Regions from separate parts of the Homo sapiens genome. Here region 2 is linked to region 1. The links come from fine-mapping of genetic effects on gene expression. Tissue or cell type: whole blood. Region 1 holds a variant in brackets; the other region holds the start of a gene. All regions are shown on one strand. Distances are from middle to middle.

The links. PIP is the estimated chance that this variant, and not a neighbour inherited with it, causes the effect.
Region 2: B3GALT6 starts here. The variant in region 1 is fine-mapped to the expression of B3GALT6 in whole blood (TOPMed, PIP above 0.99).

The regions. Positions count from the first base shown.
Region 1 is chr1:1,284,362-1,286,861 of GRCh38, forward strand. It overlaps SCNN1D (sodium channel epithelial 1 subunit delta), which reads left to right. Exons shown (of 18, transcript NM_001130413.4): 6 at 1,210-1,303; 7 at 1,565-1,917; 8 at 2,407-2,500. Among named protein-coding and RNA genes, the nearest start is that of SCNN1D, 5.2 kb to the left of the region's middle. The variant G/A (reference allele first, on the strand shown) is at 1,213.
Region 2 is chr1:1,230,659-1,233,265 of GRCh38, forward strand. B3GALT6 (beta-1,3-galactosyltransferase 6) reads left to right here and starts at 1,579. Exons shown (of 1, transcript NM_080605.4): 1 at 1,579-2,607. The coding sequence starts at 1,621. SDF4 (stromal cell derived factor 4) reads right to left here and starts at 1,343. Exons shown (of 7, transcript NM_016176.6): 1 at 1,234-1,343. RefSeq lists a silencer at 821-1,680 and enhancers at 1,297-1,978, 1,979-2,607.

The DNA.
Region 1 (2,500 bases):
CCAGGGGCTGGGTTGGGGGGTCTCTTTCCGATGCCTGGCCCCGTGTGCCATCAGGAACAGGATTGCATGGTGGCAATGGGGCAGGTCATCCCTGAGTGCCTCCTTATCCTGAAGAAGGCTGTGTCCCATTGCGGGTACATAGTGTGTGCTGGACCACTGGGGGTGCCGAGCGTGTGCTGGACCACGGGGGGTGCACAGCGTGTGCTGGACCACGGGGGGTGCCGAGCGTGTGCTGGACCACGGGGGGTGCCGAGCGTGTGCTGGACCACTGGGGGTGCACAGTGTGTGCTGGACCATTGGGGGTGCATAGCGTGTGCTGGACAGACCCCGGGAGAACACTGCAGATACTGCGTGTCCAGGCGCTGTGCATCCCGTGGGTTGGCCACATGGCACGACGCAGATCCAGACAGGGTGGAGAGGCCAGTGTAGTCCTGTCTCACACACACGCGCACATGCAGGGTGGGGTCCGGCTCCTCTCTGACCAGGGGTCCAGGCCCTGCCTCACTCAGAAGCCCTGGGGACCCTGACTGGCCCTCCAGACCCCAATCCACAGCTCCCGCTTCTGCTGGCCTGGCAGCCCCCACTAGGGGGATGGTGCTGCCCTGTCTATGCGCCAGGTGGAGACGAGGAGTGGGGACTGGAGTCACAAAGACCCTTCCGAGCCTCTTAGCCTCCCTGCTCAGATGGCCTTGGGGACGCAGGGTGAGCAGAGCCATGTGCCCAGTGGTGGAGCTCCTGGCCAGGCTGCCTGGAGGCCTGTGCGGCCCACACACCCGAGGGGAGCCGTCCCCACCTGGTGTCCCCAGGCCCCGAAGCTTCTGGCTCGCTCTAGCACCTCCCCAGAGTACCTCGGAGCAGGCTTGGGCAGCGGGACAGCCTCGCAGACCAGAGCTAGGCCTGTCCCAGGACTCCAGAGCCTCCAGCGCGGGACTGGGCAGGCAGTGGCTGGGCTTCCTGGGGCCCTTGTGTCTCCGCAGCTGGCCCCGGTACTCAGCTCAATGGGGCCACCCCGAGCCACAGTGCCGAGCGGTGTCCAGGCCAGACGCTTCCTGGACTTGGCTGGATGGGCCTGGCACAGTCGGTCCTCAGCAGGCCACACTGGGGGCTGGGGTGGGTGCAGCCATCAGGGGCAAGAAGGGCAAGTCTTCCCCTGAGCCCCAGACCCCACGCGGGGCGCATGGACACGCTACCGTACTTGCCTTTGGGTAGATC[G/A]CCTGGGCCTGTGGCTCCCCAGAGGCCCTGCCACCTGAAGGGATGGCAGCACAGACCCACTCAGCACAACGCTGCCTGCAAACAGGGCCAGGTAGGGCCTGAGCACCCTGTTCTCTGAGTCCTGCTGCCCCAGCAGCCCAAACTCAAACTCAGCTCCAAGGCTACACTGAGACGTGTCAGGGACGGGTGTATCCGGGGAGAAGGGCGCAGTGTCAGAGCACCCTGGGAGGGGCTTGTCCGAGCGACCGAGCAGGTAGGGCGGGGCACTGGTGGCTGACAGACATGACAGGCCCAGGGTAGGGAGGCCTGAGTGGGTGCAGGCCGGGCCCTGCTGAGGCCACTCTGCACACAGGCTGCAGCCCAGACGCCCCCCAGGCCGGGGCCACCATCAGCACCACCACCACCACCCAAGGAGGGGCACCAGGAGGGGCTGGTGGAGCTGCCCGCCTCGTTCCGGGAGCTGCTCACCTTCTTCTGCACCAATGCCACCATCCACGGCGCCATCCGCCTGGTCTGCTCCCGCGGGAACCGCCTCAAGACGACGTCCTGGGGGCTGCTGTCCCTGGGAGCCCTGGTCGCGCTCTGCTGGCAGCTGGGGCTCCTCTTTGAGCGTCACTGGCACCGCCCGGTCCTCATGGCCGTCTCTGTGCACTCGGAGCGCAAGCTGCTCCCGCTGGTCACCCTGTGTGACGGGAACCCACGTCGGTGAGGGCCAGGGCTGTCGGCGGGAGGGGTGGCCGCCCCAGCTCCTTGCCCCTGTGACCGTCTCTAACCGAAGCCCCACTGGCCCCTGTAGCCGAGGAGGGGGCTCTGTGTGGTCAATGCCACCCTCCTGGTCACTGTGACCTCCCAAACCTCGGTGCCCAGCCCGGACCTCTCGGACTGCCAAGGAGGGGGCTCAGTGTGGTCACTGCCCCCTGGAGGGACACCAGGGCCCTCGGGAGCCTGGGAGGAGAGGTGGGGGTGGGCGAGGCTTTCCAGAAGGAGGGAAGGTGGGAGGGGCTGCGAGCGGGCTGGGCTCCGGGGCCGACCTCACCGGCAGCCACGGCCTCCAACTCCAGCTCTGGGTCCAGCTCACCCCACTGGGCGTCCCGAGTAGGGGAGGCACTGCTGTCCCGACAGCACACACTGGGATGCTGGGGCCAGTGTGAGGCCCCGGGCCGGCAACTCTGACTCCAGGGCCCTGCGTCCCAGGCCGAGTCCGGTCCTCCGCCATCTGGAGCTGCTGGACGAGTTTGCCAGGGAGAACATTGACTCCCTGTACAACGTCAACCTCAGCAAAGGCAGA
Region 2 (2,607 bases), 54 kb before region 1:
ATGTTGGCCAGGCTGGTCTCTAACTCCTGACCTGAAGTGATCCTCCTGCCTCGGCCTCCCAAAGTGCTGGGACTATAGGCGTGAGCCATGCACCCGGCCTGATTTTCTGAACATGGCTGAGGGCTTTTCCCTTCCCTAGTGGTGGCATAATTCTATTCCTGTCGTCCCAGATCGCCTGACCAGGGGAGAGTCCTGGATAAGAACCAAGACACCTCCTCCTGGTGCTGACTCCACTAACTACAGTCGTAAAACACACGCTGTGTGCAAAGAGACTGTACTTTGTTCCTAGAGAAAATAAAGCTAGTTCTTGATTCTACATATCTTGATGAGTTACACGGTTTACTTGAGGCAGGAGGATCGTGAGACCAGCCTGGGCAACACAGTGAGACTGCGTCTCTTTAAAAAACAAAAACAAAAAGATAAGACCCTGTCTCGAAAAAGGGGGAATAAAAAGTAACCCAAAAGTAACTATAAATATCAGGAGTCCATCAAGTGGCGCTTCCTCTCCTGGCTTCAGAGTATCTATTCATCACGGTGTGCCAGGTTCGCAGCACAGCGGAGCGGGCCGGTCCCACCGGAATGGGGTTTCGACTTCGCCATCCCCTAGCAGCTCAGTTCCCAGCAAGGAATCAACACACCCTTGCAAAACGGACGTGGGAAACAGCTTAGGCAGAGACGCTATTTCTTTGCCATCCCTGGGCTTCAGCTCTGGTGGAACGAGGCTATTTCTGGCAGTTAACAACACACACGGTTAGATTCTAAAAGCTCAACAGGGTTCATAACACCGCCTCTGAGCCAGACATCAAGGGCTCCACACAGCCGACTTCACATCTCCAAATCCTACTAACTGGGGATGAGGGTCCACGCGGTTCAGAAGCGGAAGCGCAGGCGCAGGGAAGCGGGGCAGCTTGTCCAAGGTCGCCTCGCCGATAAACGCGAGTCCAACCAGACCCCTTGGGCCTCCGTTTCCCGGTGGCATTCGTAGGTTTTGGCCAGTAGGAGACCAGACGTGCCGGCGGCCGGGGAGGCCAGCGTCGTCGGCCTGTCCCTGCCCCCGGGAACCCCGGGAGCCCCGGTGGCGGCGGAGTCTCGCCAGGGCTCAAGGCCGAGCGGACGGACGATGCCCCAGCCCAAGGCGGGAGGCGGCGGCGGCCTCCAGACCCGCCCTCGCCGTCCGGCCGGCGTACACTTGGCCCCGCGGCCTGCAGCGGCCGTCCCGGGCCCCTCACTCACCGGTCTGCCTCCCCGCGCTCGGGATCCGAGGACCGGAGCGAAGCGTCAGTGACGCCGCCAACGGGCCCGGATCAGGCCACTGCCATCTTTCTTGCGGGCGGGGGCGGTGCGAACGGGCGCGACCTCACGGAGGGGACGCCGGCGCCACCATCTCTCCTCCGGGCGGAAGCGGTCGCGGGGCCGCTCCGAGGTTGACCAATGACAAGGGTGCCCGAGGCCACGTGACGGCCGCCGATTGGCCGCCGGCCTCCGAGCGCCCCGGGGCTCGGCGTCTGCGGAAGGCCCCGGCGCGCTCCCAGGAGCGCCGTGCGCACGCGCACCGCCCCGAGCCGGCGGCGCCTGCGCACTCGCGAGTCCGGCCTGGGCCGCCGGCCCGGCGCGGGCGCCATGAAGCTGCTGCGGCGGGCGTGGCGGCGGCGGGCGGCGCTAGGCCTGGGCACGCTGGCGCTGTGCGGGGCGGCGCTGCTCTACCTGGCGCGCTGCGCGGCCGAGCCCGGGGACCCCAGGGCGATGTCGGGCCGCAGCCCGCCTCCCCCCGCGCCCGCGCGCGCCGCCGCCTTCCTGGCAGTGCTGGTGGCCAGCGCGCCCCGCGCCGCCGAGCGCCGCAGCGTGATCCGCAGCACGTGGCTTGCGCGGCGCGGGGCCCCGGGCGACGTGTGGGCGCGCTTTGCCGTGGGCACGGCCGGCCTGGGCGCCGAGGAGCGGCGCGCCCTGGAGCGGGAGCAGGCGCGGCACGGGGACCTGCTGCTGCTGCCCGCGCTGCGCGACGCCTACGAAAACCTCACGGCCAAGGTGCTGGCCATGCTGGCCTGGCTGGACGAGCACGTGGCCTTCGAGTTCGTGCTCAAGGCGGACGACGACTCCTTCGCGCGGCTGGACGCGCTGCTGGCCGAGCTGCGCGCCCGCGAGCCCGCGCGCCGCCGCCGCCTCTACTGGGGCTTCTTCTCGGGCCGCGGCCGCGTCAAGCCGGGGGGGCGCTGGCGCGAGGCCGCCTGGCAACTCTGCGACTACTACCTGCCCTACGCGCTGGGCGGCGGCTACGTGCTCTCGGCCGACCTGGTGCACTACCTGCGCCTCAGCCGCGACTACCTGCGCGCCTGGCACAGCGAGGACGTGTCTCTGGGCGCCTGGCTGGCGCCGGTGGACGTCCAGCGGGAGCACGACCCGCGCTTCGACACCGAATACCGGTCCCGCGGCTGCAGCAACCAGTACCTGGTGACGCACAAGCAGAGCCTGGAGGACATGCTGGAGAAGCACGCGACGCTGGCGCGCGAGGGCCGCCTGTGCAAGCGCGAGGTGCAGCTGCGCCTGTCCTACGTGTACGACTGGTCCGCGCCGCCCTCGCAGTGCTGCCAGAGAAGGGAGGGCATCCCC